7 linked regions of the Homo sapiens genome follow. The protein of the gene in region 3 purifies or fractionates together with the protein of the main gene of each other region. This does not show direct contact. Each region holds a gene or a part of one and is shown on either strand. Other genes may lie near its edges. The genes, in order: KIRREL1, RNASEL, SLC22A11, CPT2, INTS12, TTK and CNOT1.

Region 1 (4,359 bases), on a different chromosome or scaffold from region 3:
GAAACCTTCTTCTTTCTTTTTTCCTCCCTAACTGCCTCTATCTTAGGCCCTAGAAGGTGCTACTGCTGCCCTGGAGTACTCGCTTCCTAATGAGTGGACCTTGATACTCTTCTTTCTGCTACCTTATCACAGAGATAGAGAGAGATGAAGAAAGGCCAGCTAAGCTACTAAGTGTTGCAGTAACAATGTCTTATAATGGCACCCAGTGGCTTGGTTCAATCCAGGAAGAACCTGGAAAAGGAGAATATCAAGGGGAACCCTAGATGGAAGAGTGCCTTGTTTAAAAGCTTGCAGGCCAATGAAGGAGAGCTACATAGCAGGAGAGCCGACTGGCTTGTTTCGAGGGCATGGTGGGTATTGAAGGTATGGTCCTTGCTGGCCTGCCTGGGTGACTTGGGTGGATGAGAGAACAGGGAGAGACCCCAGGAGTAACTTTAAGCTGAAAGAGAGACAGGGACGGTTAGTGCAGCTGGAGGGGCTTTACACGCCTGGGCAAACACCTGGGCATGGTGTCTCCTCGGGGCTCTACCCATCCAGGATCTTCCTCCCGGGTGTGGCAGCAACATGTGACCTTAGAGGGGCCTGAGCAGACCAGGAGGCCCTTCTCCCTTCACTCTTTCCTCTCCTTGTCTTTCTCTTAAATTCTCAAACACCCTGCCACCTGCAGCACACGGAGGCAATAAGAAGGCATGACACTTCCTGCATCCCTTCCTGCGTACCTGCTTACCCACAGCCTTTGCTCATGGCAGCTGGGGGACCCAGAGACTAGGCAGGGCAGAAATGAGGAGTGGGCTGTGCCCAGTGCCTGGTATCAGCCTCCCTGCATGATGTCAGCCTTATAGACTCCTCTCCTCCCCAGCCATCCCCCTCAGCAGCCCCCCAGCTCCCCAGGCCAGGGGCCCTCTTCACAAAATGGCCTCTGTCATTCTTCCTTAGGGTAGGACTTTGAAAAGAAGCCTCCCACTCCCCCGCAGATGCAGACATAACATAGATATACAGACCTCCAAAACCATGGTGATGAGCATGACTTCTGGGTCAGGCAAGCCTGGTCCACATCCTAGCTCTGCCCTCTAACTCACTCTCCTGTCTCTGAGCACATTTGTTTATCCTCTTCGAGCCTCCGTTCCTTATCTGTAAATTGGGGTTAATATATTTACCATGAAAGGAATAATGAAATATACTTTGTGGTAGGGATTAAATGAAGTCATATACAGGAGGCACTTTGGCTGACACAAGGTGAACGTTCACTGAGTGGCAGAAGTTATTGTCGATCCCACCACCATTTACAGTTGGCTTCACCTTCTTGATTTTGTTTTGCAAAATCAGGGGAGTAGGTGTCCATTGTATTTTTGAAGTTTTATAAACAAGGAGACTGAGGCTTTTTTGACCACAGACTCAGGGGCACATGAGTTTGGGGAGGCACATGAGCATATTGATATACAGATTTAAGTCACAAACCATAAAAACTTGCTTATAAACACATGCACACATGGACACATGCCCTTTAACAGCTGGCTCAGCAGGCACCTTAACAGCTTTATTGTCATTTGTCCCATATATGAGGGACGAGCTCATATATGAGGGATGAGCTCACGGAGGATGGGCAGAGAGTTTGGAAAATTCAGAGAAAGGTAGACTGCTGGCAGAGGTGACAGATGGGTAGTCTTTGCATGAACAAAGGGGCAGGAGGCATTCCCAGGGTAGAGGAAGCTGATGCCTTCCCAGCGGAGGGGCTTCACACACCCGGGCACACACCTGGGCATGTTGTCTGCTCGGGGCTCTGCCCATCCAGGATCTTCCTCCTGGGTGTGGCAGCAACATGTGACTTTAGAGGGGCCTGAGCAGACCAGGAGGCCCTGAGCAGCAGCTCTTTATTCATTTCTCTCCACCTTTCTCTACTTTTCAAGCTGCTCCCCATCCCCATCCTCAAACCTGTCCCCATCTGGCATTGGAACCAGATACACCACAGAACAAGGAGGAAGAGCCAGGGATTCAGAGGATAATTAGCCAGGCAGGAGTTGGAGCCACTGCTACTCTCGTCCAGGCAGTAAGGCTAATACATTCCATACCTCACACATGCCCTGCACATCATAGTCTATGTATAGTATCTCATCTGACCTTCATGAGGCTCTAGTGAGTATGGTTATGTCTTGGTTTCTTCTCTGATGAAGAAACTGAGACTCAGTGATTTTAGGAACTCATCCGAGATCACACAGCAGGTAAACAAAGGTGCCAGGATTTGAAACCAGGCAGTCTGAATCTAAGTTTTATTCTTTTTCCACTATACCACTAGGCACACATGAGTTGAACAGAATGCTAAGACAGGTTTCGAGTAGTTTCTACTGGAAACCCCAGCATAGAGACCTTCATTGTGTAAATTCTAGAACAGCCCTGTCCACCACTGGGCACCGTGGGTCTCCCAAGATCTCCTCTTGAGTGTTCCCTCTGCACACTCCTCTCGAGTGTTCCCTCTGGACCCTCCTCTGGGTCTTTCTTGTCTTTCCCAGAAAGAAGCAAACAAAATCTTTTATCGGTGGAGCACGCTGGCTCATGCTTGTAATCCCAGCACTTTGGGAAGCTGAGGTAGGAGGACTGCTTGAGCCCAGGAGTTTCAGACCAGCCTGGGCAACATAGCGAAACCTCGTCTCTACAAAAAATAGAAATTAGCCAAGCATGATGGTGTGTACCTGTAGTTTCTGATACTTGGGAAGCCGAGGTGGGAGGATTGCTTGAGCCCAGGAGTTCCTTTCTCATTTATGGTTGATGAACACTGGGGGGACCAGAAAAATTATAATCAAAATCCTTCTGCCTTTATTTCATCAGTATCCATTCATTAATTCAGCAAATATCCCTGAGCACCTGTGATCACCCAAGCCCTGGGCTAGACATTGAAGTGTTGATGGTATATCAGAAGCAGCCGCTACCCTCAGGGAACTTACAGTCTGGTTTGTCTTAGAAGCCTATGGAGATAGGGGAGGGAGAGCCCCCCTTGTTTGCAACATCATACATCGGTCAATTGAATTCTTTAAACATTTAGCAAGAGCCTACTTGGTCACATTCTAGGCACTGGTGACCATATAAATATTAGTGAGACAGGGTTGCTGTTTTTCCAGGGGATCACAGTTTTGGTTGGGGCAGGGTTCGATAACTGTTATAAGTAAACAAAATCCAAGGCGCTAAGAGCTCTGAGTGACTGGTGGGGGCCACCATGGTGGGGGTGGGCTACAGCATGGAAAGCCTTGTGCATCAACTGGGATTTGAACAGGATAGGAAGCACTTCAATAGAAGCTGTGGGAGAAGGGCATGCCATATGGAAAGCACTGCAATGCAGGTCTTGGCTTGAGGACCCTGAACAGGAGGCCGAAATGCTTGGAACTTATGCCCTAGGCAGTTGTAGCCATTGAAGGTGCTTGAGCAGGGGAGTGGCACATACTTAGCTGTGCTGAAGGGAAAAATAACCTGCTAGCAGTGTGACATGGAGGTTACTGTAATAGGCCAGCCCATCTGTCTGCTCCAGGGCAGAGGAGCAGACAGGAGGAAGGATGGGAGAAGTGCTATGGAGGTAGCCACCTTTCCGAGCCAGACTCCCAAGACTATGAGCTGTACTCAGGGCCTGAGATAGCCCAGCCCTTTCTTAAGTTTGAGGCTTCCATCTGTAGTGTGCAGCTCTGAGCAACTGTAGGGGTATGGAGCCAGGCACAGTGGTTCACGCCTGTAATCCCAGCACTTTGGGAGGCTGAGGCAGGTGGATCACCTGAGAGGTCAGGAGTTCGAGACCAGTCTGGCCAACATGGTGAAACCCCTACTCTCTACTAAAAATACAAAAATTAGCTGGGAGCAGTGGTGGGCGCCTATAATCCCAGCTACTTGGGAGGCTGGGGCAGGAGAATCGCTTGAACCCAGGAGGTGGAGGTTACAGTGAGCTGAGATGGCACCACTGCACTCCAGCCTGGGCGACAGAGTGACACTCCATCTCAAAAACAAACAAACAAACAAACAATAAACCAGTAGGGGCATGGAGTACCAGAAAATATTATAGGCCAGGAAAGAAAAGCAGACAAGGACTGGGAAAGATGTGTGAGCTGAGGACCTAGAGGAAGCCACCACAAGAGCAATGAAGACAGTGGTTGTAGATTAGGGGGTAGGGTGGTACCGCCTACCTAGAGGCGCACATGCAGGTGGAAGGATGCTTCCAGAGGCAGGAGTTTTGGTCTTCAGGGAAGTGTTAGCCACACCCTGCACTGACTTTGCTCTGCTTTCTCCCACAGTCCCCCCAGAGGACACCAGGATTGACGGAGGCCCTGTGATTCTACTGCAGGCAGGCACCCCCCACAACCTCACATGCCGGGCCTTCAATGC
Region 2 (4,359 bases), on a different chromosome or scaffold from region 3:
TACCACATAGAGGACCAGCCGTCCAAGGTCCTGCACAAAAGCCATAAATCAAGCCAAAGATGCTTACTAATTATTTGGGTAACCCTGGAAGGAGTGGTGCACGCTATTAGCAAACAAGATGATGGGAGGAATCTCAAGGAATTTGTAGGCTTGTTAGGGAGGGAAGGCACAGATGTGTGCATACAGACCTCTTCAAGGCAGTATATCGCCCATACCACTTAGTTTTATGAAGAGTAAAAGATACATATAAGTCACAGTTGTTAGGGCAGACTGCTTGGAGGAAGAGAGATTTGAGCTGGGCCTCAAATGTATGGACAGAATATAGATAAATTGAGGAAAGGGAGAATGCTTTAAACACAGGGAGAACTGACAGCCTGGCTGGAAACTGGGACTTTGGGTCTGAGGCTATGTCACGCAGCAAATAAAAAAGTCAGTCCAGGCCAGGAGAGGCAAAGTGATGACCCCAGGGATTAGGCCGTGGCCAGGAGGAAAGGCCAAGAAGAAGGTCGCCTAAGGAACTCTTTGCACTAGCCACCAGTCAAGGAGGGAGCTGAAATCTGATGCCACCAAACCAGGAGGCCAGACATATGGGTGGAGAGTCTCACCCACTGGGTTGAAAGTGCAGCACCCTGTAAAACTCTCCAGGAAAGACCTACCCTGACAGGGTCAGAATCAGCCTGGGGGCTTTGGTCTACAGCGGCCAATCTCCATGTCCCCTCAGGAGCAACAGCTATTTCAGAGTCCTCATCTTTTTGGCCAAGCTTAGGTTCTTTCAAGCTGGGAATTGACCTCACTCCTCCCAGGAGTTTTCAGAGAACCTTAGTATCCAGCCTTCTGCAGAGTGTAGCCCACGAGTTTGAGTTTGTGGTGAAAGAAACCTCACTTACTTTGTTCCTAGGTAGAAAAATAACTCCTCAATGAATATTGGAGATATTTGAAATTCTCTCCTGGAGAGAAGATGTGGCATGCTCAGTTTATTTACTTATTAAGGTAGTGGAGGAAGAGAGATTCAAAGAGATACAGTAAGGGTCCACAGTGACAGCCAACTCCACACCGACCCAAGCTGTTGCACCTTCCCATTGTCATCTTGAAAGCTCTGCTGCGGGAGAAGCCCAAGGAAATGCCATGGCCTACAGGGGAGTCAGGACAGTGAGCAAGATGGGGAAAGCCTTGAACATTCTTTTTTTCCTGGTTAAAATAGAATGCCCTCCAATTGCCCATAGGAAATAAGGTAATGAACTGTGACGGTTAATATTGAGTGTCAACTTGATTGAGTTGAAGGATACAAAGTATTGTGACTGGGTGTGTCTGTGAGGGTGTTGCCGAAGGAGAGCAACATTTGAGTCAGTGGACTGGGAGAGGCAGACCCACATTCAGTCACGGTGGGCACCATCTAATCAGCTGCCAGCATGGCTAAAATAAAGCAGGCAGAAAATGAAAGAGCAGACAACTTGCTAAGACTTCTGGCCTTCATCTTTCTCCCGTGCTGGATGCTTCCTGCCCTCAAACATCAGTATCCAAGTTCTTCAGCTTATGGAGTTTTGGACTTACACCAGTGGTTTGCCAGGGGCTTTCAGGCCTTTGGCCACAGACTGAAGGCTGCACTGTCGGCTTCCCTACTTTTGAGGTTTTGGTACTCAGACTGACCCATCACTGGCTTCCTTGTTCCTCAACTTGCAGATGGCTTATTATGGGACTTTATGTTGTGACCGTGTGAGTCAATTCTCCTTAATAAACTCCCTTTCATATATACATATGTCCTACTAGTTCTGTCCCTCTAGAGAACCCTGACTACTACATGAAAGAATAAGGAAGCAGAAAGAAGAAAGGTAAACTGGATTGTAGAATTTACCTCTAGATCTCTCTTGACTTCCTGTGGATCTCCAGCCCACTTGATGCTCTTATCAAAATCTGCCAGGTGAGCAGCTTTCTTAGAATCTAAGGAAAAGTTTGCAGAGGCACATTGAAAATACTCATTCTCCATAAAGTGAGAGTCAATTGATTTATATAAATATGTAACATGCTATAAAAATCATCATCTCTGTGGAAGGCAATAATAAACCTTATATCTGTATTTGCCATTCACCCCTCAAAACACTGCCATGTGCACTGTTTCATTTGATCTGTTAGGTATCTGCCAAGAGCAGCACTTACATTTTATTTTTTCCAGGCCAGGGGGTAGGAAGGGATGAGGACAAATTTAACCAGCTCCTCGTTCATGCAATTCCAGGGGCCGAAAGCACAGATTTGTAAAGGAGCTGTTCCCTTACACTGAGCTTAAATCTCAGTGCATGTCTATGGATAAGGTATGTACTCTGCTTAGACCTTTCAGGCAAGAACAGCCTTTCCTGAGCACCTATGATGTACCAAATGACTTACTATTTCATCATTGCACTTAGACCTCATAACAAACTTACGAAGGAGGCATTATCAGCCTCAAGTGAGGAACTGAGGCTCACAGTATCAAGTGACTTGTCTGAGGTTACAAAACTACAAACTAGTGAGACTAGGCTTCAAGCCACCCTAATCATCGCTGAAGCCCTGGCTTGCTCCCCCGCACCATATTGCTTCCTGGGACTTTACGGTCAGCCTTGCTTTTCTTTTAACATTTAAAAGAAAATGCTATTTTCCTTCCCTTTGTTTGGCTTGGACTAGTGGATTCTGACTTGTTCTGCCTTGGAGTCTGTGTCTTCACTACGTCACATCTTGTCCTGACATCCTCAACTTTGACCTCAATTTTGTCAGTAAGTTTCATGGTTACTGCCACCTTGTCTGAAGGAACTCACCTCTAGGATTCTCAGATTTCTGGAGCTACTTTGATCCATGACATGCCTTCATCTGTTTATTTTGCCAATGGCAATCTAAGGCTAGCCTGGTATTCTGTTGGCATCTACCAACCTTCATGTAGACTAACAGAACCCAGTTATAATTGGTAGCAGGAGACACTGCACTGTAATTATGAATTTGTTGTAATAATGATCCACAAATTGAATCATCCACATTTACTCTAGGCCTTTCCTCTCTGCAATGAAAAACTTTTCCTATCATAAACAAAGATCCCACAATTTCTAAGAGAGAATTGGGGATTGGGGACTCACCTATTAAGATGTTTTGTGGTTGCAGATCCTGGTGGGTGTATCCACAGGACAAGTGTAGTTCTTGAACAGCCTTAAATATAGATGACAGGACATTTCGGGCAAATTCATCTTCCTCATTTTCCACATCTTCCCCTCTGTGCACATCCAAACACGCTTCCAGAGTCTGCTCACAGAGGGTGACACACACAAACAAGTGGCCCCTGTGGCTCTCACTCCCATAGAATGTCACCAAGTGACTGTTCTCTCGGCTGCTTTGCAGACAAGAGACTTCCCGCTGTGCACGTGGGCTGCCCTCACAGAACGTCTTCACAGCTACTTCTTGCTTCTCATAGAACCCCAGGTAGATGCCTCCTTCTGAAGTATCAGCAATTTTGTATTTTTCATCAATAAAGAACTTGAGTTTGCCAATCATAGGGCGGTATATTCTGTGGAGATCCTTCAGGGCTGCCCCCCAGTGTGAGCTCTGAGGCTTCCAGTCTTCAGCAGGAGGGTGAAAATCTTCTTTGGCTCCATGAGAGAGAAGAACCTTCACAAGGGAATGGTCATAATTCCGCCTCGCTGTCATAACAAGATCCCCACAATCTGTACTGGCTCCACGTTTGCACAGCAACTCGGCGATTTTCTTCAGTTTGAGTTCAACAGCAAGCAGCAGTGCTGTTTTGCCATCACTGTCTGTGTCATTAATCTCTATGTGCTCTTGCTCCAGAAGCCTCTGCACCAAACCCAAGTGCTTCTTCTCCACTGCCAGGATCAGGGGAGTCTTCCCTCTTTCTCCCCTCACATTGACATCAGCCCCATGGTCCAGCAGCAGATGCGTAATAGCCTCCACATCACTATCGTCAGAGCTCAGGAGAGCATGGATCAAGGCATTTCTGCCCATATTGTCACAGGCGTTTACATCTGCCCCCATCTCATCAAGGAGAATCTTCAAGACCTCTACGTGTCCTTTTTCAGCAGCGTCCATGAGAGCTGTGGCCCCTCCTTTCCTCAGCCGCTCTTGATCCTCCTTTGTCTTTCGCCTCAAATTCACATTTGCTCCTCTCTTATAAAGGAATTTTAGGGCTTTGACCTTACCATACACAGCGGCTTCCATGAAGGCTGTGAAGCCATAAAAATCACACTCATTGACATCTGCTCCTTTAGAAAGGAAAAGTTTCAGCAGCTTCACGCTCCCCGCAATCGCTGCGAGGATAAAAGGCGTGGCCCCATTCTTCTTCCTCAGAACAGGGTCAGCACCATGACGAAGCAGAAGTTCCACAAT
Region 3 (4,359 bases):
ATGGGGCTTCACCACGTTGGCCAGACTGGTCTTGAACTTCTGACCTCAAGTGACCCGCCCACCTCAGCCTCCCACAGTGTTGGGATTATAGGCGTGAGCCACCGCACCCGGCCTCTTTTTTTCTTGATCAGTAAGTCTAGAGGTTTGTAAATTGTATTGATCTTAAAGAACCACCTGTAGGTTTCGCTAATTTTCTTTATTGTTTTTTCAATTCTCTGATTTCTCTTGTGTATTATTTCTTCTGCTTACTATAAGTTTAATAAACTCTTCTTTTGCTACTTTCCAGGTGAAAGCTGAGGTATTTGATTTGGAACGTTCTTCTCTTCTAATGTTAGTGTTTAATGATATCAATTTCCCCATAATCATTACTTTAGCTTCATCTCACAAATTTTGATATGCCATTTTTTCATTTTCACTCAGTTCAAAATCTTTTCTCATTTCCTTTGAGATTCCCTCTTTGACCCGTGGGTTACTTAGAAGTGTGTTGTATAGTTTGAAGAGGTTTTCTATATCTCTTTCCATAATTGATTTCTAATTTAATTCCATGCTGGTTCAAGAACATTCTTTGTATGATCCGAATCCTTTAAAATTTACCGAAGTGGGAGGAAAGGCTGGGGTCCCATGGCTGCCTGACCAGGCAGGGGGAGAAGTGTGATCCTTATTGTGAGCCACTGGAGGGCTTTCAGCAGGGAGGGATTTGGTTTGGATTGCGTTTCTTAATAAGCATGGTGGCTGTTGTGCAGAGTGCAATGTAGACATCAGGGACCAGTTTGGAGCTACAACCGTGGTGTGAACCAGGGTGTAGCCAGAGTGAAGGGAAGTAGGTGGATTTGGGAGCTGTGAGGAGGCAGGAGTGATTGACCCAGTGTACACAGGGTGAAAGAGGTGAGTTGAGGGGCCTGAGATTGAGGTGGCCCAGAGTGGGGTCTCCAGGGAAGGGCATGAGGGTAACTTTGTGGCAGGGCCACAGATATCAGTGGCATGGAGGGTTGGAGACGAGGGCTAGGAGCCTCCTGTGCTGGAAAGAGCCCTGGGCTAGGATCAGGGCCGGGTTCGGCCGTGTTTCTGCAAGCTGGCCCCTCCACCACTCTGCACTTTTGCTTCCTTGCCCATCTGAGATGGGCAGCCGGCCTCGACCATCCCAGAGTTTTCATGGCCTGGACAAGGGAGGTCTGGGCATGAATCAAGAAAAGGTGTCCCCTCCAGAAAACAAACAGCAAAAGGGTGCCGTTTGGTTGAAAGCCGAAAGTTAAGGTTCAGTATTAGGTGCTGCCCTTGACATCTGGCAAAGCCAGAAGGCCTTGGCAGGCCTGCCTGTGAGCTCCCCTTCTCCCCTTTCACTCCGCCCTGTGGATGAGGCTCCCCGGCCCAACAACCCTCATCGAGGGGACCAAGAGGGGTTCCTCTTATCCCTACGCTTGTAAGGCTCCGTTTCTCGCCAGCCTGCAGCATGATGAAACAAGCTGATTACACCTTCCCGCAGAAGCCAGGAGTTGCCCCACCCCCTTTGTGCTCCAAAGCTGCCTTCCTGCAGCCCTGGCTGCTCGCTCGGATCCTCAGTGCACCCCGCCCCATGCCTCAGTGCAGCGTCATCTTCGTGGGCTCTGCGCACGTGTGTGGTAACCTGCTGCCAGCCTCCTCTGTCTGGTGTTTGGTGGTGTGTTTGGCCGTCTTCGTAACCATAGGGCTGGAAGCCCTCCCTCACTGATGAGTAAATGAAAAGTGATTAAAACAGCTCCTTTTTTTGGAGAGGACACAGCCTTTGCTAGGGTGGGTGGTGGGGCCAGTGTAGCCGGGGCTGAGTTTCAGACCCCACACGCCTCCTTGGCTGCGTGCCTCGGGCCAGTGCACAACCTGGACACCTGTATCTGGCAGCTCTCTCAGCAGGTTCCATTTATTTGGCCGGTGCTAAGATCAGTTCACCCTGATACCTGCCCTGGGGGGTGGGTCACGTGATCATTCTCATTTCACAGATGAGGGCTCTGTATGTGGTGGGGTGAGATTGGAACCCAGTCTCTGGTTGGCGTGGCTGAGTGAAGGTGTAAAGACATGAGCCTGGCAGGGAAAGGGAGGGGAACCGTCTCGTTATTGGTTGGGCATGGCCATCTGCACAGGCTCCTGTAGGGCCCGGGTAAGGTGGGGAATCTGATCAGGGCAGGGAGAAGAGGAGTGAGCTGTGGAAGCTGCCTTCAGCCACAGCAGACGGCCACGCTGTCCACTCGGCCACGGCTGCCTGGCCTCTGCCATGCCAGGCCCTTGAAGTCGCCCAACTCGCCTCCACGCTCTGATTGGAGAAGAGGCAACTCCTTTCCAGGAGTCTTTGACTAAAGGGGCTCCATGCAGGCACAATTTCTAGAGCGAGGTACTTTCCACAGTGACGGCCTCTTGCCGGTTGCCCTGGGCTGCTGTTGATTTCCTAGAATAATCCAAAGAAAAGCAGTGCCATGTGGTGAAGTGGGTATGTACTCGGAGCTTGGGGCAAAATGGCGGTCAAGTCTTATTGGGGGGTAAACTCTATGGCATTAGGCTTTTACTCCCTTCTGTGTACCCAAGCGGGACAGTGCCTGAAACATAGTAGGTACACAACAAAAATCAATTAAATTAAAGAAAAAATGAAGTCCCAGCTTCTCCGGGTCTCTGCAGGTGTCCTTAGGCAAGTTATATAACCCTGCTGCATCTCAGTTTCCTTGGCAAAGGAATTGGACTGTAATAGCACCTCATGTGGTTGTTGTATCGATTAAATAAGGTGACATAAAACAATAAGAACTCAGTATTATTACTATCATTGTGACCTCGGTCACCATCAGAATTGAGGCGGCCCTGTGAACAGTCACCCAGGACACAATAACCACATGTCCAGAGTGCTTGCTGCAGGCCTGGCATTTTCCCAGGTGCTTTAAAATAATACTTCCCTTAAACTTGAAAACAACTCTGTGAGCCAGGCTGGGTTTTGTTTGTTTTTTCTAAACACCATCTTACAAAGGAGGAGGCTAAAGCCCACAGAAGTGGTTCTGGCTATAAAATGCAGCCAGGGAGTGCTCCCTCATTTCTCCCTGTCAAAGAATGGGTGTGAGATGGCACCATCTGTTCTCTGAGGGTTTGAAAGAACTCACCTGTTGATCTGTCTGGGCCTGAAATTCTTTGTGGGAAAATTGCACTAGGACAGTTGAGACTATCTGTATCTCCCTTTGTCAGTTTTGGTGAGAGAGGTTAAGTCACTTGCCCAGGCAGGTGGGGAACGTGGGCCCAGGCAACCTGGCTGCCAAGCCTGGGCTTTCAACCATTACATTTTCCTGCATGAGGTATGATCACTTTCTACCCATGAGACTTTGGATAAGTCACTTTCTTTCTCTGACCCTAGTAATAGTATGGGGATAGTAATAATACATTTCTGGCAGGATTGTTGGAAAGATTAAATGGTTTCAGAAACACAGGCCTTGGTACTCTTGAGCCTTTGCCCTGGGCAGCCCAGGCCTGTCTCCATCTTGGCCCAGGAGGAAGCCCAGCCCGATGCCCAGGGATCACAGGTCACTCACTGGCTCTCCAGGTCCTGGATAGTGTCAGGGAGCGGAAGTCCCTGGGTCTCCGGGAGGAAGAACAGCACAACCAGGCTGGAAGCAATGGAGATAACGCCATAGAGGAGAGGAGGCAGCAGGGGCAGGGCTTGGCGGCTCATCAGGATCAGGGGACCCATCATAGCCCCCAGCCGGCCCACTGTATGCAGAATGCCATCTGCTGTCATCCTGTGGGTGAAGGGGAGGGCCCAGATCCCTGTAACAGCTGGCCCTGTGGCAGGAAGACATCCTGGGCTCACAGATGCCAGGGGAAGGAAAGCTGGGCTGAGGGAATTGCCCTCCTCAAGGCCTCCTCTAATGCCACCTCCTCCACGGAGCCCACCCAGATTTTTGCATCTAGTGTTTCAGGGGAAATCTCTAGGGCCCACCTCATTTTCCCCACTCTTGGGCAACTTAAGGGCTTCTCCATACTCCTGCTAGGCCACTGAGCTCCCAACTCAGGCTTTCCATACGATATCAACAAAATCAATAAATGCTTGTCCAAACAACAAATTAAAATATGGAGAAATGAGTGAGTGGTGGAAAGAACATTGGGCTAAAAGTCTGGAGAGCTGGAGTCCAGTCCTACCCTTCTGCTGAGCCAGTCCTTCACCCCGAGCCTCAGTTTACCCAAATATCAAATGTGGGGGTGGCCTAGACTCTAGACCACTGGTTTTCCATTTGTGTTTTATGATGCCCTTGGGCTCCAAGGAGGTGACTTGGGGCTCTCTTGGGGCAGGGAAGGAGTGGTGGGAAGTGAGTTGAGGGTCCCCACTGCTACCAGGGCAGCTCTTGGTCTCCTAAT
Region 4 (3,500 bases), on a different chromosome or scaffold from region 3:
ATTAACTCAAAATTACAAGCCAAAGTCTCATCTGAGTAAAGGCAAGTTCCTTCTGCCTATGAGTCTGTAAAATCAAAAACCAATTAGTTATTTTCAAGATACACTGGTGTTACAAGCATTGGGTAAATGCTCCCATTCCAAAAGGGAGAAATTGGCCAAAACAGAGGGGCTACAGGCCCCACGCAAGCCTGAAATCCAGCAGGGCAGCCATTAAATCTTAAAGCTCCAAAATAATCTTTGACTCCATGTCTCACATCCAGGGCATGCTGATGTAAGAAGTGGGCTCCCAAGGCCTTTGGTAGCCCTGCCCCTGTGGCTCTGCAGAGTACAGCCCCATGGTTGCTTTTACAGGCTGGCATTGAATGCCTGTGGCTTTTCCAGGCACATGGTGCAAACTGTCGGTGGATCTACCATTCTGGGGTCTGAAGGGCAGTGGCCCTCTTCTCACAGTTCCACTAGGCTCCCCATTGGGAACTCTGTGTGGGGGCTCTAACCCCATATTTCCCATCTGCATTGCCCTAGTAGAGGATCTCCATGAGGGCTTCACCCCTGCAGCAGACTTCTGCCTGGACATCCAGGTGTTTCCATATAGCCTCTGAAATGTAGGAGGAGGTTGTCTCTTTTTTTTTTTTTTTTTTTTTGAAATGGAGTCTTGCTCTGTCACCCAGACTGGAGTGCAGTGGTGCTATCTTGGCTCACTGCAAGCTCTGCCTCCTGGGTTCACGCTATTCTCCTGCCTCAGCCTCCCCAGCAGCTGGGACACAGGTGCACGCCACCACACCCGGCTAATTTTTTTTGTATTTTTAATACAGACAGGGTTTCACCATGTTAGCCAGGATGGTCTCGATCTCCTGACCTTGTGATCCACCCGCCTTGGCCTCCCAAAGTGCTGGGATTACAGGCGTGAGCCACCGCACCCGGCCGGACGAGGTTTTCAAACCTCAACTCTTGTTTTCTGCACACCTGCATGCCCAACACCATGGGGAAGCCTCCAATGCTTGGGGCTTGCACCCTCTGAAGCAATGGCCAGAGCTGTGCCTTGGCCCCTTTTAGCCATGGCTGGAGCTGGAGTGCCTGGGACACAGGGCACCATGTCCCGAGGCTGCACAGAACAGCAGGGCCCAGGAAACCATTTTTCCCTCTTAGGCCTCTGGGCCTATGCTGGGAGGGGCTACTGTAAAGATCTCTGAAATGCCCTCAAGACATTCTCCCCATTGTCTTGGCTATTAACATTTGGCTTCTCATTACTTATGCAAATTTCTGCAGCTTGTGGCTTGAATTTCTCCCCAGAAAATGGGTTTTTCTTTTCTACTGCATGGTCAGGCTGCAAATTGTCCAAACTTTTATGCTCTGCTTCCCTTTTAAACATAAGTCCCACTTTCACATCATCTCTCTGTGAATGCATATGACCATATGCTTTCAGAAAAAGCCATCTTGAATGCTTTGTTGCTTAGAAGTTTCTTCTGTCAGACACCCTAAATCACCCCTCTCAAGTTCAAAGTTCTGCAGATCTCTAGGACAGGGACAAAATGCCACCAGTCTCTCTGCTAAAGCACAGTAGAGTGACCTTTGCTCCAGTTCCCAATAAGTTCCTCATCTCCATCTGAGACCACCTCAGCCTGGACTTCATTGTCCATATCTCTATCAGCATTTTGGTCAAAACCATTCAACTCTCTAAGAAGTTCCAAACTGTCTGACATCTTCCTGTCTTCTTCTGACCCCTCCAAACTGTTCCAACCTCTGCCTATTAACCAGTTCCAAAGTTGTTTCCACATTTTCAGGTATCTTTGTAGCAATGCCCCCCTCCTGGTACCAGTTTTCTATATTAGTCCATTTTCACACTGCTATAAAGAACCACCTGAGACTGGGTAATTTATAAAGAAAAGAGGTCTAATTGACTGACAGTTCCTTGTGGCTGGGGAGGCCTCAGGAAACTTACAATCACAGCGCAAGGTGAAGGGGAAGCAAGGCACATCTTATGTGGCAGCAGGAGAGAAAGCGAACAAGTGGGGGAACTGCTGAACACTTTTTAACTATCAGAGCTCGTGAGAAACCACTAACTATCATGAGAACAGCATGGGGAAAACTGCCCCCATGATCCAATCACCTCCCTCCAGGTCCCTCCTTCAACACGTGGGGATTACAATTCAAGATGAGATTTGGGTGGGGACATAGAGCCAAACCATATCAATCACATTAGAGCAAAGCCTGTAACTGACAAGCCTCACCCCCATCCACATAGCTTCCAAGAGCTTTTTAATATCTCACTCATATCGAAGACAACACAGGATTATGAAGCATCTGAAGAAAGAAAAGGGCAAAGCAAACAGAAGAAAAGCAACTTGGAGGCAACAGACTATGAAGAGAGAAGAGATCTTAAAAAAAAATTATCAGAGATAAACTATTTTTAAAAAGAACACCATAAGAAGAAAAAAGAGCTTGTGGAAGTAAAAAATAGGAAAGCAGGAGTTTTAAAAACAGGTTGAGAGATTAAAATTAAGTAAGTCTCCCAAGAAAATGTAACAAAAAGAGTAAGAGATGAAAAATGTGAGAGAAAAGAAAATTAGAGGATGAGACCCAGAAATTCTACACCTGAATAATAATAGAGTTCCACAAAGAAAAAACAGAGAAAAAAAATGGAGAGGAAGAAAGCCAAAGAAATAAAACAAGGAAATATCCCAGACCTGAAGGATGAGATTCCAGATTCAAAGGACTCACAGAGTGGCCCAACACATACTAAAACACATTACCTGAAATTTCAAAACACTGGGGACAAAGAGAAAATTCTAAAAAGCTTCCAAAGGCAGAGAGAAGAAGTAGTCAAAAGATTAAGTCTCAGAATAACATTAGATTTACCAACAGCAACACTGGATGCTAAAAGACAATGGAGCAAAGCCTCCAAAATTCTGTGGGAAAATAATTTCAAACCCAGCCAAACAAATTATCAATGAAGTATAAGGGCCATTTTAAAATTTTTGCTTCCCATATTCTGTTTCCAGATAGTACAGGGAATATGTGCTCTGATTTAAAAAAAAAAAAAAAGAAAAAGAAAAAGCCAAGAAATAAGAAAATATGAAAGACAAGAAACACGAGTCCCAACATGAGAGAGAGATGACAGATGCCCCAGCTGATGGTGAAAGAGCACAGGAGAGCAGCTTCACAGTAGGCCAAGAGGTTCACAAATCCAGACTACAGCATGTCGCAAGTTCTGGAAGAAGTTTCGTCAAGAAGACCAAAAGGGATAGAATGTCCAATCTGCTTTCATGTATTGAGAGGAGATTCAGACAGCTTGGGAAGAGTCTGGGGGTAAATTAGTAAGCACATAGAAAACTAAACAAGAGAAAAGATGGAACAATTATTAACTTCAGAGAAAACAAAAAGTTTGTACTGGAAAGGAAAAACAATCCCAATATGCTACATGAGTCAGCTGACAATAGTGTTTCTATGATCATAATAGCATAAAACTAGATACTGAGTTACCCAAAATTACAAATCCCTAT
Region 5 (4,359 bases), on a different chromosome or scaffold from region 3:
TTTATTTTATTGGGTGCTGACCAAAGGGTTGACACCTAAAAGAACCCTTGTAATATATTAGAAAAACCATTTCTTGAAATTTCTATGCTGAAAAATGAAAGCCAAGTATTTATTGCTATGTATTTCTACAATCACAGGTAAGAGGTTTACATTACAGATTAGGTGACAAGAGTCAGCACCTAGATTACAAGACTGCGGAAGTCATCAACACCAACATTCCAGTTGGAACCTTGGAGTCAGTTCTTTTTATGCAATCTTGCCATTATAAAACTTAACAGGCTTTGTACCCCTCCCCTAAATTACTAACATGGCCCTTTGACCCAGTGGTCCCCATGGTGGAATACAGAGAAAAAAATATTAACTTTTTAATTTATTTCTATTTCTTTTTTTTTTTTTTTTTTTTTTTGAGACAGAGTCTCGCTCTGTCGCCCAGGCTGGAGTGCAGTGGCATGATCTCGGCTCATGGCAAGCTCCGCCTCACGGGTTCATGCCATTCTCCTGCCTCAGCCTCCCGAGTAGCTGGGACTACAGGCGCCCGCCACCACACCCGGCTAATTTTTTGTATTTTTTAGTACAGACGGGGTTTCATCATGTTAGCCAGGATGGTCTCGATCTCCTGACCTTGTGATCCACCCGCCTCGGCCTCCCAAAGTGCTGGGATTACAGGCGTGAGCCACCGCGCCCAGCCAATTTATTTCTATTTCTATTTATTTTTTAAAAATCTATTCATATACAGAGTGATAATAGTGTGTTATATAATTGATCTTTAACCTCAAGGAGCTTTATCTTCAGCCAGTGAAATCTGAAACTTGCCACAACTATTGTCCTCTTTTATTACAATCAATTCTCCTTTCTGACTACAATCTTCCATTACTCTATCTCTTCCACTGCCTTAATCCAGGGACCTCTTCAAAGTGCCAAGTCAATCTTTCTTCTGTATTTATTCATTTCTCTATTCCCATTCTACTTGTTCTTTGTTACAGAAGCCTCCAATTTCTTGTCCCTTCTGCTTTCTCCTTATTGGCACCCTCTTGCCCTGACTTTTGTTTCCTCACCAAACAGAAAACAGTAGTTGAACCTAAAATAAAACACTTATGGTTATGTGGTTTATATTTTATATTTTAGTTTTCTATCTTACCTTTACTCCCCCTTTTCTGTTGCCTTCTCTAATCTCTGTTACTTTTCCTTCCTTACCGGCAAATATCCATATAGTGAAAGAAGTTTACTTTCTACAGCAGTCATAAAGAGGTCAGCAACTTGGTGTAACTGTGTTGATCTACACATACAAAAATATTTTCCTGGAGTTACACCAAATCATGTTACTTCTATACAATTCCTTTCCTGTATATTCATTCCTAAACCCATGGCCAAAACAGACTGCAAAAGAGCCATATCATTCTTACTATGGATTAGAGTTCTAGAAAACAAAGTCCTGTGTGTGTGTATGAAAGAAAAATGTATATATGAAAGATATTTAATATATTAAATGTAGGTTTCATTTAAAAAGTAGATGTTGCTTTCAAAAAGGAGAATGTGAGAAAATTAATATTTACCACTTTAAAGCTTTCGCTGACCTAGGGAAGTGGTAGTAGTAGTATTGATAGGAGTGAATTCTTAGGTGATGCTGGGAATTAGCTGTGTCAAATGCATATAGCACAAAAATCGCCATTACTGAACAATGATCTTTTTTCTGTATCTCTTATTATCCTTGATTTATTGCAGTATGCCGTTTACTTCCTATCCAGCTCACATTCTGTGGTCCACCCTTTCAATACCTCTTTCAGTACTCTAGGCACCCGAAAGCCCTGTAGTTTCCCTACTTTATAGACATCCACCCTGCTAGCCATTCTCTCTCTGCCTGCACCCAAACTCTAAGTGCAACTGGGAGGAATATACATACATTCTATCTTCAGAATCACCATTCTCAGCTTGGCGTTCAGTACAACTTGGCAATTCTCTCATCCTTCTCTGGTCAACTCACTTCCCCACTTTCTGCAAAGATCAGTTATACTTCCTCCATTTTCTTTTAAAATTGCTTCTGTGTTTCAGTAGATGGCCTCACCTACTTCACAAAGAGAGGCTGTCAGAGAGGAATTAAGTCGACTTCCTTCCAGCACATCTACAAACTTACCTGCACTCATCCTTTCCTCTTTCCCATCTGATAAAAAAGGAGAAGGTAGCTCTCTATGTAGTGTCACCTGGATCTGGATCCTATCTCTTCTTGTCCCCTCTTGAACCTTGGCCTATGGATTATTTCCCATATCTTCTTTTTTTTTTTTTCAGCCTTTCTACTGGCATCTTTTCATTGACATTAAATATATTCAAACATCTTCTATCTTTTCTCTTTTATAGCAAAACGTTCTCAGAAATCATATGCTTTTGTACTCTTTTTCTTCATTCCTTCTATTTACACAGCAATTCTTGCAATTCAGCCTTTGTCCCACTATTCCATGAAAATGCTCTCATGAGTCATTCGCCGCCTCAGTCAGGTAAACCTAATACATACGATTGTCCCTCCTACTTCTTTGTCAGTCATCTTTGTAGGTTCCTCCTATCCAATTAAAAATGAGTTCCTCAGTGCTAGGTTCTGGGTCTCTTCTTGACTTGTTCTACATCTTCTTCCAAAAATGTGTTCTCTGAGTCAGCAGCATAGGTATCACGTCAGAACTTAGAAATACAAACTCTTGGTCTCCATTCCTAGGCCTACTGAAGAAAAAACTCTGGGAGTAGGGTCTAGAAATCTGTGTTAAGCCTTCCAGGCAATTCTATCTACTCTAAAGTTTGGGAATTATTGCCCTAGACAATTTGATCTATATAGTCTTTTGCCAGTGATTACTAATACATCTCTGCAGTCCATGTGTCTCTCCCAAGATCCAACTGCCAGCTTGACATGGATATATCATTGGTGCCTCCTATGCAACGTGTCTCCAACAGAGCCACTCATACACTATTCCCTTTTCTCCTAACCAGTTCTTCCTCTAGTAATCCCTTTTTCAAATGATATTTACCCTATTGCCCAAGCCAGTAACCCAGAAGCAGCTTTAACTCTTCCCACTTCCTTAATTCCCACCCCCAATTCAATAACCAAACCTCTTAAACATACCTCAAATCTATCCACCCTTTTCAATCCTTACTACTACCACCCTAGACCAACCTAGCATCATCTATTATCTGGCCCACTGCAAAAGCTTAATCAGTCTCCCACAATCACTCTTGTCATCCCTTTAAACCTTTTCATATCACTCACTTGCTTAAAATCCTTTTATCACTTCTCACAATCCAAAGGTTCAAGAATAAGATTCTTAACAAGGTCTCCAATTCTCTACATCAGGGGTCCCTAACCTTCAGGCCATGCAGCAGGAGGTGAGCAGTAGGCAAGCGAGGGAAGCTTCATTTGTATTTACAGCCACTCCCATCACTTGCATTACTACCTGAGCTCTGCCTCCTGTCACATCACTGGTGGAATTAGATTCTCATAGGAATGCGAATCCTATGTGAACTGTGCATGTGTGTGATCTACGTTGTGTGCTCCTCATGAGAATCTAATGCCTGATGATCTGTCACAGTATACCCCATCATCCCCAGATGAAACCGTCTAGCTGCAGGAAAGCAAGCTCAAGGTTCCCACTGATTCTACATTATGGTGAGTTGTCCAATTATTTTATTATATATTACCATGTAGTAATAAGAGAAATAAAGTGCACAATAAATGTAATGCACTTGAATCATCCTGAAACCATGTCTTCAATGAAACTGGTCCCTGGTGCCAAAAAGGTTGTGGACCATTGCTCTACATGATTAATAATACATATAAAGCAGTTACAACAGTACCTGACACATAGTTGACACTCATTAAATGTTACCTAGTATCTTAGGCCATTCTCACTCTCTCTGTTATAGCTATCTGACTTATTTCAAGTCCTCCAATATACTCTTTCTTACCTTAGCACTTCAGTAGAAAGTGTGCCACCCCCACCTCCATCTTAAGTCACCTCTCAAGTTTCAGTTTTTCCTGCACATTCCCTCAACAAAACTAGAAGTTTCACTGTTACATAGCCCAAAAACATTCTGTACTTATTTGTAATATTAATCACACTGTTAATTATGTAAATAATCTTTCTTTCTCATTAGAATGTAAGTTCCATGAAGGCAGGCAGTGGATTGGTCTTGCCTACTGTTGTAACCCCTGTCTGGCAGAGTTCCTGGAAAACAGCAAATAACTGTAAATGTTGGCCAAGTAAATACTTGTTATCTACTTCCAATTTCATAAAACTTTCTCTTCCCTTGAGTTCTGTTATACTCAACTTTTCTGTTTTTCCTCTTCTATCTCTGACTACTCTTTCTTTGGCTTATCTTCTT
Region 6 (4,359 bases), on a different chromosome or scaffold from region 3:
TTTTTAAAAAACTAACACTGAAGAAAGTAAAAAGTACATTTCAGTGTGAACATTTTGTCTGAAGGTTATTCTTGCTGTTTCTGTTGGTTGGGGTTCCACAGAGAGAAACCTGACAGTCACAAGAGGTCCTATAAATTCCAAAGGTCTAGACCACGGTAACTATGAGTTTGTTGGACCAAGAAATTATCAGGGCCTCTAGCAGAAATTTAGGTTACTTGGAGAGAAGAAAATGATTGTCTCATTTGTTTATTTTTTGTAAAGCTGGTTTGGTTTTACAAGTAAGTATGAGGTATACAGAGATAATGTTGAATGGTTAAGGTTGTAAAGAAGGTTATGTTAGGACTGGAGCAGTAGGTTTAATGAATAAATCATTGATGGGAGAATTTTCTAAGTTAATTAGTACAAGTGGCAGTGGGAGAGATTTAGTTTTCTATGGATAGGTAGGATGCTAAAATTATAGTTATCCTGCAACAGCATAAAATTTTCTTAAACTACATACAATTTTTAAAGGCTACTTACAAAAAAACTCACTTATTTCCAAATGTTTTCTTTCCTTCAAAATATATAGCTTTTGGATAAAGTATACCTTCATAAAAGATAAATACACGATAAATAAGTTACTTGTATTTATATGAACTTTTACAATTTTAAAAAGTATTATAAGGACTTTATGTACATTGATACTGACAGTACAAATGTTTGACTATATTTTGAAGGAAAAATGCAATTTGGCATTTGTTTTATGTCTTTTCTTGTGATATATTTTGTTCCCCTTATTTAGATAACTCGGGAACTGTTAACCAAATTATGATGATGGCAAACAACCCAGAGGACTGGTTGAGTTTGTTGCTCAAACTAGAGAAAAACAGTGTTCCGCTAAGTGATGCTCTTTTAAATAAATTGATTGGTCGTTACAGTCAAGCAATTGAAGCGCTTCCCCCAGATAAATATGGCCAAAATGAGAGTTTTGCTAGAATTCAAGTGAGATTTGCTGAATTAAAAGCGTAAGTATTAGCATTTTAACTATGTTCAACTATGTTACATAATATGTAACTACACTGCAAAGAGAGAAAATAAAAAACATGGCAGTATTGTGAGAAAATATTAATTTTTTTACCAAATACTTTTGCTTATAGTTAACAAGAGACTAATGTAAACTCTTTTCTATGCACGTTTCCACAACAGTTTACTTATTTTAAACTGCCTAAAAAGATTTTTTTAAAATAACTTATTAGTATTTAATTTTACCCACAGAAAAAAGCAATATCCCATGTTTTTTGGAAAATTGAATGAAGCATTATCAAATTTAAGTAGCTATGTTCTTTTTCTTAAATTTTGACTCAAATCTTTTATTACAGTATTCAAGAGCCAGATGATGCACGTGACTACTTTCAAATGGCCAGAGCAAACTGCAAGAAATTTGCTTTTGTTCATATATCTTTTGCACAATTTGAACTGTCACAAGGTAATCTGAAAATGTCAAATTCAAATTTTAAGTAAAGGATAACTTATTACAACTTACTTCCTAATATTAAATCATATATATGAAGTGGAAATTTGAGGCAAAAGACATTAAAGTTGATCAGATGAGAATATGGGGAGAAAATGCCACCTAAATGTAAATGCAGAGAATATCTGTTATACTAGCTTTTCCATGTATAAAGAGTAATCCAGGGAAATGAGCATGAACATTGTGTATGTGCTACTAGTTAGATTCAGGAAACATCTAAAGGAAAGTAGCTGCTTCACTGAGTATTTGTAGGAAGAAGGATATCAGATATTTAAGCTAGAGCTTTAAATATCTAGAGCTTACATAAACTTTTCTTATGCTATGGTTTCATAGCACCAAAATGTACATTAAAGTGTAGCTATGTAACTTGGTGGTCAAGTAAACTATATATCTGTGTGTGTGTGTGTGTGTGTGTGTGTGTGTGTGTGTGTAGCGTTAATTGGTAGTTCTTTAAAATAAAAAAGTAAACTGCTGTAGAAACTATTTCTTGCTCACTTGGTTCTTCATAGTCTGGATTTTTTTGGGTAGGACCAAGACAATCTCTTCCTAAGACATTTTTAACCTGGCCATTCCTTAGTCTTTTCTCATTTTCCAGGGCCTTTGGATACACCCTCAGTCTGCCCTCTGGCCAGGTGTTTCCATTCTCCCACTGCCTTGTTTCTGCTACAACTGTGATCCAATTTACTGCCAGTGATAAACATATTAACACTATTGGAAGAATCCCCATGATGGTTTCCATAGCAGGGATTGGTCACTGGAGAGTATTCCCCAGGATTGAGCCTGGAGAAAATAATTATATGACTCAGAAATAATTTGAGAACCCTGAATTGTTACCCATTCAGATGATTTCTGAGTCCTAGTAATTGTCTTCTCCAATATGTCCTTTGCTCTATCAGGTTACTTTTTAGAACTATTATCCCTTTCTTCTCTAGAAAAATGGATTCCTCCTTGCTTGTTAGAGAAAATTTGGCAAGGCTTCTTTCTCTCCATTCTGCTTGAAAATTTCTTGAGGTATTGTGGCCTCTCAATAACAACCATAAATTTTACATGTTTAGAACATGTAAATATTGAAACTCTTAAATTGAGTTATCTGTAAAAAAGACGAACTTTATCTATACCACTTTATCTGCAATGTGGTAGTAATGCACAGTGATGCAATGTGGTCAAATGCATTGCACAGTAATGCAGTGTGGTCAAATTATGATTATTTTGAGCACAGTTGATGGCTTGGCTGTCAGGAAATAATGCAGCATCCCTGAAGTCCTATGCAGAGTCTGGTGTGTGAGTATTTTTATAGGGATGGAGGACATTTCAGTTTTTACCAGATTCTTAAAGAAATCTCTGATCTCAATACTAAGCTATCTGATTAATTAAGCTTCTTAAGCCTTTCTCTCTTTTCTTGTGCTAAAATACACAATACATGAAATTCTACCACTACTTAGTAAATGTAGATGTAAGCACTATCAAAGATATTTTTAAAAATTTATAAACTACCAGAAGCTAGAGATCATCTCTTAAGCATTTTTATACGCTAAGTACCAAGTGCATAGCATAGCTCAATGGCTCCCATAAATGTTGATAATATTCTGTAAGATATGTGATGTATACATTTAATATTTATATGTCAAATGCTAGGGGTAAGTTTACCAATTTTTTTGGTAATCTGTCCATACTCAGAAAGGTAATTATGATAGTTCCTCAGTTATTCTGCATTCTTTTTCAGGCTGGTATAGCTGAGTGTGACAGCTAAAGATTAATCTGTATTTATTATGTTTTTCCCCGAAAATCCTTTTGATGGAAGATGCTCTTTAACAAAAGATGTCATCCTTCCCTTAACTAAATGTCATTATGAATGATACTTATTATAGCATGTTGTAAGAGACTGATGCTCTTGGCACTTTTGTAACATCTAGAATGCCCTCCTGTTTCTAACTGTTGTGATTGGCCTTTGCTGTCCCCTGTTGGTAACTGCTTTGTTACACTTCTGTTACTTCTGAAAGTGGACAGTGGTGATAAACTAATGCAAAATTACGTCAGCTACATATTGCAAGGAAACTATTTGGTATGCATTGTTATCAGAAGAGAGTTGGTTATCTGCATAAAAAGTGAGAGATTGCTTACTTGCCTATGAAATAAAATACATGAGCCTTGGAATAAATATTTTTGCTTAAGTCTTTTTGATTTTTTTTTCTAGGTCCTGATGAATACGTATCTGGGTGGTCTGGGTGGTGGGCATTTTACTGCCTAAAAATGACAATTATCTTTTGCTTTGTTAGGTAATGTCAAAAAAAGTAAACAACTTCTTCAAAAAGCTGTAGAACGTGGAGCAGTACCACTAGAAATGCTGGAAATTGCCCTGCGGAATTTAAACCTCCAAAAAAAGCAGCTGCTTTCAGAGGAGGAAAAGAAGAATTTATCAGGTAACTATTAAGGTATACTAATACTTTCTGTGGTAGGTAGTACTTCAAATAAAGATTCGGGATAATAATTTATAGAAAAATATTATTTATGTAGAATGGTTAAAATCTAAGATTAAATTGTAAAGGAGGTAAGACTGAGAAGTAAAAAAGTCTCTACAACCCCATGCAAATTTGTCTTTTTTGCTAACTAAACTTTCGTTAACACATGAAAAACAACTCTAAGCAAGAGAATTTTTTTTTTTTTGCTTTTGGAAATAGAGAATGTGCTTTTACCCTGGGGAAATAGTTATATAATTTAAGAGAATTTGAAGAAGTAGTTAGATAATTATCTTGGTATCATCTTCATGTCTGCATATCTTACTTGGGGACAAGTATTTCCTATGAATTGACTTTTAAAATATTCTTATTTGTAAGATCACTTTTTTGTAC
Region 7 (4,359 bases), on a different chromosome or scaffold from region 3:
AATACCACTTCTGAGAAATCACTGTAACCTTTTAAAACAATGACCTACAATTTATTCCCCAAAACAAGGTACTGGTTTTCTATATCCAACATGGGGAGAAGGTAGAGACCAGATGGAAAACAACTACTTAACAATTCTCACCTCTCAGAAGTAGGAAGTCTAAGTGTCCGACCTACCTACTAGAAAAAAGGGAAACCCCTGGACATAAACAGTACTATCTATGTCAAAAGGCAGTCGCAGTCCAATACTCACTACTTTTCGAAGATGGCTACTGACCTTGTGATCTGTTTGTTGCACCATGGAGACCCATATGCCCGGCCATCCTGCAGAGCTTTTAGGACCAAGAGGTGGCATTCCCTGTAGCGCAGCAGAAGGTCAGCATCAGCACCACTTGTGGCATCTAGTAAGCCCTCTACAGCCTATGGGAGAAAGAAAGCGTTCAAAACCATGAAAAATACAGTGCTTGGCCCAACTATCACAGCCAGAAACCAAATCTCAATGCCAAGTACCAAATACCTTCCAAAGCCTCCCTGTCCTTTCCACTCTCCAAACATCCCTTTCAGTTGCCTATCACACACACTCTAAATTCTATCTGATTTAAGTTCATTCTGTGCTCTTCATTGTCATAAAAGGCTCTGCTGTAGTTAAAATCCAGGGCTCCCTACCTACCCTGATCCAAATTATTGGATCAACTTGTCCCTCAAAATCTAAAGGGCAGCTGGGCTCAGTGGCTCATGTCTATAATCCTAGCGCTTTGGGAGGCTCAGGAGGGAGGGCCACTTGAGCCCAGGAGATTGAGAACGACCTGGACAACAAAGCAAGACCTGTCTCTACAAAAAAATTAAAAATTAGCTTGGCTTGGCAGTGAGCACCTGTAATACCAGCTACTCGAGAAGGTGATGTGGGAGGTTCACTTAAGCCCATGATCACATCACTGCACTCAAGCCTGACAGAGAGAGACCCTGTCTCTTACACACACACACACACACACACACACAGACACACACACCCCTCTAAAGGGCTACCTTTTAAAGTTTCTTCAAATCACATTTCCAGAATATCTTTAAGAAAAAAAATGAAGATTTCCAAGTTTACCATTCAAAACTGCCATGACTACATTCTACGTTGGAAAAAAAAAAAATCACCTACTTACAGAACTTGATTTATATTATGAAATCTTAAGCATAACTGCATAAATATGTAGATGGTGGTGCAGGTCAATAAATGTTTACACACCTAGCATTTTCTAAAAGTAATAGCTTAAGAACCAACCTTTTGGAGCAATCCAAGAGCAGCTATGGCATCCCGAGAGTTTCGAGATAAAACTACAACCTCCAAGAGACTTCGAAGAGCCTGAGCTTGAGGGTTCATGGCCAAAGTTGGTGGGATGGCATGTAGATGTTGCTCCAGTTCTGTAATACACTTATCATAAATCTGAGCTACATCATCTGTTGCCCAAGCTTGCTGTTTTACAGAAGGAAACAACCAACAAGAGACAAAAGAATGTTAAGGTTTTTTATTGACACATGTATCAAATAGAGGTCTACTAGTATGTTTACTCCCTTTTTCTTATTTTTACATTCAAACATGGAGGGCCTCTTCTTTTCCTTCTTCCTGAGCTATTCAGAATTAATACCATCAAGTGGCACAGTACAAGGCAGGCATAAGGGAAGAGGTGTTTCATTTGAGAGAGGAAAACCTGGCAGACAGCAGCATAATCAAGTGATAAAAGAGAGCATTAGTAACAATGAGACAGACTGAGGGCAGCACCACTTGTACCATCTACTAAGCCCTCTATATCCTAAGAAAGTAAGTGTTTCAAACCATGAAAAATACAGTACTCAGTCCAACTGTCAAAGCCTGATAGGATAGAGTAAGAATACAGCATTACTTCTGAGCTATTCCTATTTTTAAAAACACATTACCTGAACCTAGTCATGAGAATACACTGGACAAACAAATCAAGTCATTTAGAAAATAATTAGCCTATAATATTCAGAAGTGTTATGGTCATGAAAGATGAGGAAAAACTGAGTTACCTACACCAGCTAGAACTGAGGGAGACTTTAAAAATATGACAACTGAAGAAATGTGTGATTCTAAAACAGGTCTTTTACTATACATTATTGGGATACATGGTGAAACTCGAGTGAGGTCTATGAATTAGATGGAGTAAGGTTATTAGTATTCATTTCTGACCTTAATGGTTGTACCATGGTCACACAGGAAAAGGGTTTTTTAAGAAATACAAACCAAAGGAAAAAGGTTTTGTAAGAAATACAAACCAAAGGATTCAGGAGCGATGGGGGTATCAGGTCAGCAACTTACTATCGACCGGTTCGGGGGAAAATATTTTTCCCTATATTTCCAAGTTTTCTGTAAACACCTTTGAAAATTTTAGAAAATTCTTTTATTTAAAAAATGGGAAGGCTGGGCACAATGGCTCAGGCCTGTAATCCCAGCACTTTGGGAGGCCAAGGTAGGCGATCACTTGAGGTCAGCAGTTTGAGTCTAGTCTAGGCAACATGGCAAAACCCCATCTTTACAAAAAATACAAAAATTAGCTGAGCATGGTGGCACACGCCTGTAGTCCTAGCTCCTCAGGAGGCTGAGGTGGGAGGATCGCTTGAGTCTGGGAGGTGGAGGTTGCAATGAGCTGAGATCGCGCCACTGCACTCCAGCCTGGGTGACAGAGAAAGACCCTGTCTCAAAAAAATAAATAATAAAATTTAAAAATAAAAAACCGAAAGTTATTATGTTACCATGAGAATTCCCCTAATTAGGCCGAACATTAAAGTTAAATCACCCACACCCATGTCAATTTTTCTTTAATCCCCTGTATGTCATACTTAATTGGACACAAAGAATACCTACAACTCAAAAACTATAGGTGTTTTTTCCCCTGTAAATTATTCTCCCAGGAAGCAAGTCAAAAACATATATTAAATGTCAAAAACATTTAAATTAATTGGCAAAACACTCAATTTAATCTAAAACACATTTACCTTCATGGGCTGGGCTAAAAATCCCGTGGGCTGACTTAAGTCATTTGTAGGTAAGAAGCCAGGAACATTGCGTGCAAACTCTTCGTAAACAGCCAACTGCTTTGGGTCCACACCACCAACCTTGAAAGAAGAAAACCTATTTTGACAGAATTCACTCAATAATCAAAATAAACTGTTTTGAAAGTGGAAAGTCTGCATGTGGGTAAGCTCAGGGACACAAGAGTCATTACAACATATAACAGCATGATTAAGCATGCACGCACACACAAATGCAGTTCAGAAGAGGGCTTCTCATTTCCCTGAATCCTGCTAAGAGTCACCTCATTTATAAATTAACTGAGAGTTTCTCTTGGAAAATGCCTCACATGGGACGATGCCAGTGCAATTCTCCCTTGAAGCTGGTAAATATTATCAGATTTCTCACTGTCTCACTGGGAACAATAAGCAACCATTAATGTGAGAAGCCCAAGTTGGGAAACATGAAAACTAGCAGGCACATGAACTCCTTAGAGTAATAACACTTCAACAACTCTGGAGGAGCAAGGGAATTTAGAGCTATTTCCATACCTCCTCCACAGGCAGCCATTCAGTGAAATGCTATCAAGTTAAGATGTTTTCTCATAAACAATATTTAACCCTGCTGTCCTAATTCCAGTAAGGAGTTCAATCAACAACAACATTAAAAATAAAACAAAGATGGGACGGGGAAAGACAGAGCCCCAATTCTCACTTTCAGCCTGATTTGCTCTGGCATCCGTTCAGCTTGATATGTTAAAACAACAGGATCACAGTATCTGCGTCCTTCTTGCCTAGCATGTTTTCTCAGCTCAAATTCCTGCAAACAAAAAAAGTCACTGAGGTTCTTGTTATAAGGCACTTCCCTAAATTAAAAAAGAAAATCTTAAAAGGCAAATTCTAAACACTTACAGTTGCTAATCTCTTGTCCATCTCAGGGCCTGCTTTTTCTACTGCAGTCTTCTGAATAAAACAGCAAGCCAACTCACAATTGTCCTGAGCTAATTGAGCAGCTGCCTGATCCATCATTTCTCTTTGTTGTGGGGAAGCAGTCTATTAATGGAGGTGGGTGGGGGGGTGGGGGGAATAGAAGGAAAAAGACTTGAAAGTTGATGTGGACAGACAGGATAGTAGAAAATGCAGTGCATTTGGCAAATGCATTTTAAGTTCTGACTCTACTTATGAACAAGCTGTGATCTTGAAACAGTCTTAACAGCTTCCTCACTTTTAAGACAAAAATATCCTAGACACCTTATCAGTTTATTGTGAACATGCCTTAAAATCAGTAAAGCAGGCCAGACGCGGTGGCTCACACCTCTAATCCCAGCACTTTGGGAGG

Evidence for each region.
Region 1: the proteins of SLC22A11 (region 3) and KIRREL1 purify together in Homo sapiens (affinity purification with mass spectrometry; one large-scale study listed by BioGRID and IntAct). This does not show direct contact.
Region 2: the proteins of SLC22A11 (region 3) and RNASEL purify together in Homo sapiens (affinity purification with mass spectrometry; one large-scale study listed by BioGRID and IntAct). This does not show direct contact.
Region 4: the proteins of SLC22A11 (region 3) and CPT2 purify together in Homo sapiens (affinity purification with mass spectrometry; one large-scale study listed by BioGRID and IntAct). This does not show direct contact.
Region 5: the proteins of SLC22A11 (region 3) and INTS12 purify together in Homo sapiens (affinity purification with mass spectrometry; one large-scale study listed by BioGRID and IntAct). This does not show direct contact.
Region 6: the proteins of SLC22A11 (region 3) and TTK purify together in Homo sapiens (affinity purification with mass spectrometry; one large-scale study listed by BioGRID and IntAct). This does not show direct contact.
Region 7: the proteins of SLC22A11 (region 3) and CNOT1 purify together in Homo sapiens (affinity purification with mass spectrometry; one large-scale study listed by BioGRID and IntAct). This does not show direct contact.

Annotation. Positions count from the first base shown.
Region 1 is NC_000001.11:158,080,154-158,084,512, forward strand, and holds part of KIRREL1 (kin of IRRE-like protein 1 isoform 1 precursor), read left to right. Parts: intron 1-4,268; coding exon 4,269-4,359. UniProt on the Homo sapiens protein: Required for proper function of the glomerular filtration barrier. It is involved in the maintenance of a stable podocyte architecture with interdigitating foot processes connected by specialized cell-cell junctions, known as the slit diaphragm.
Region 2 is NC_000001.11:182,582,229-182,586,587, forward strand, and holds part of RNASEL (2-5A-dependent ribonuclease), read right to left. Parts: coding exon 3,099-4,359; intron 1,939-3,098; coding exon 1,853-1,938; intron 31-1,852; coding exon 1-30.
Region 3 is NC_000011.10:64,569,036-64,573,394, reverse strand, and holds the end of SLC22A11 (solute carrier family 22 member 11), read right to left. Parts: intron 3,744-4,359; coding exon 3,537-3,743; intron 2,417-3,536; coding exon 2,353-2,416; 3' UTR 520-2,352; downstream 1-519. UniProt on the Homo sapiens protein: Antiporter that mediates the transport of conjugated steroids and other specific organic anions at the basal membrane of syncytiotrophoblast and at the apical membrane of proximal tubule epithelial cells, in exchange for anionic compounds.
Region 4 is NC_000001.11:53,203,324-53,206,823, reverse strand, and holds part of CPT2 (carnitine O-palmitoyltransferase 2, mitochondrial isoform 1 precursor), read right to left. Parts: intron 1-3,500. UniProt on the Homo sapiens protein: Involved in the intramitochondrial synthesis of acylcarnitines from accumulated acyl-CoA metabolites.
Region 5 is NC_000004.12:105,701,748-105,706,106, forward strand, and holds part of INTS12 (integrator complex subunit 12), read right to left. Parts: intron 4,228-4,359; exon of another isoform or gene 4,132-4,227; intron 3,644-4,131; exon of another isoform or gene 3,567-3,643; intron 2,063-3,566; 5' UTR 1,901-2,062; intron 1,277-1,900; exon of another isoform or gene 1,139-1,276; intron 1-1,138. UniProt on the Homo sapiens protein: Component of the integrator complex, a multiprotein complex that terminates RNA polymerase II (Pol II) transcription in the promoter-proximal region of genes.
Region 6 is NC_000006.12:80,007,028-80,011,386, forward strand, and holds part of TTK (dual specificity protein kinase TTK), read left to right. Parts: intron 1-781; coding exon 782-1,004; intron 1,005-1,358; coding exon 1,359-1,465; intron 1,466-3,786; coding exon 3,787-3,930; intron 3,931-4,359.
Region 7 is NC_000016.10:58,538,496-58,542,854, forward strand, and holds part of CNOT1 (CCR4-NOT transcription complex subunit 1), read right to left. Parts: intron 4,074-4,359; coding exon 3,933-4,073; intron 3,841-3,932; coding exon 3,736-3,840; intron 3,126-3,735; coding exon 3,006-3,125; intron 1,465-3,005; coding exon 1,273-1,464; intron 420-1,272; coding exon 277-419; intron 1-276.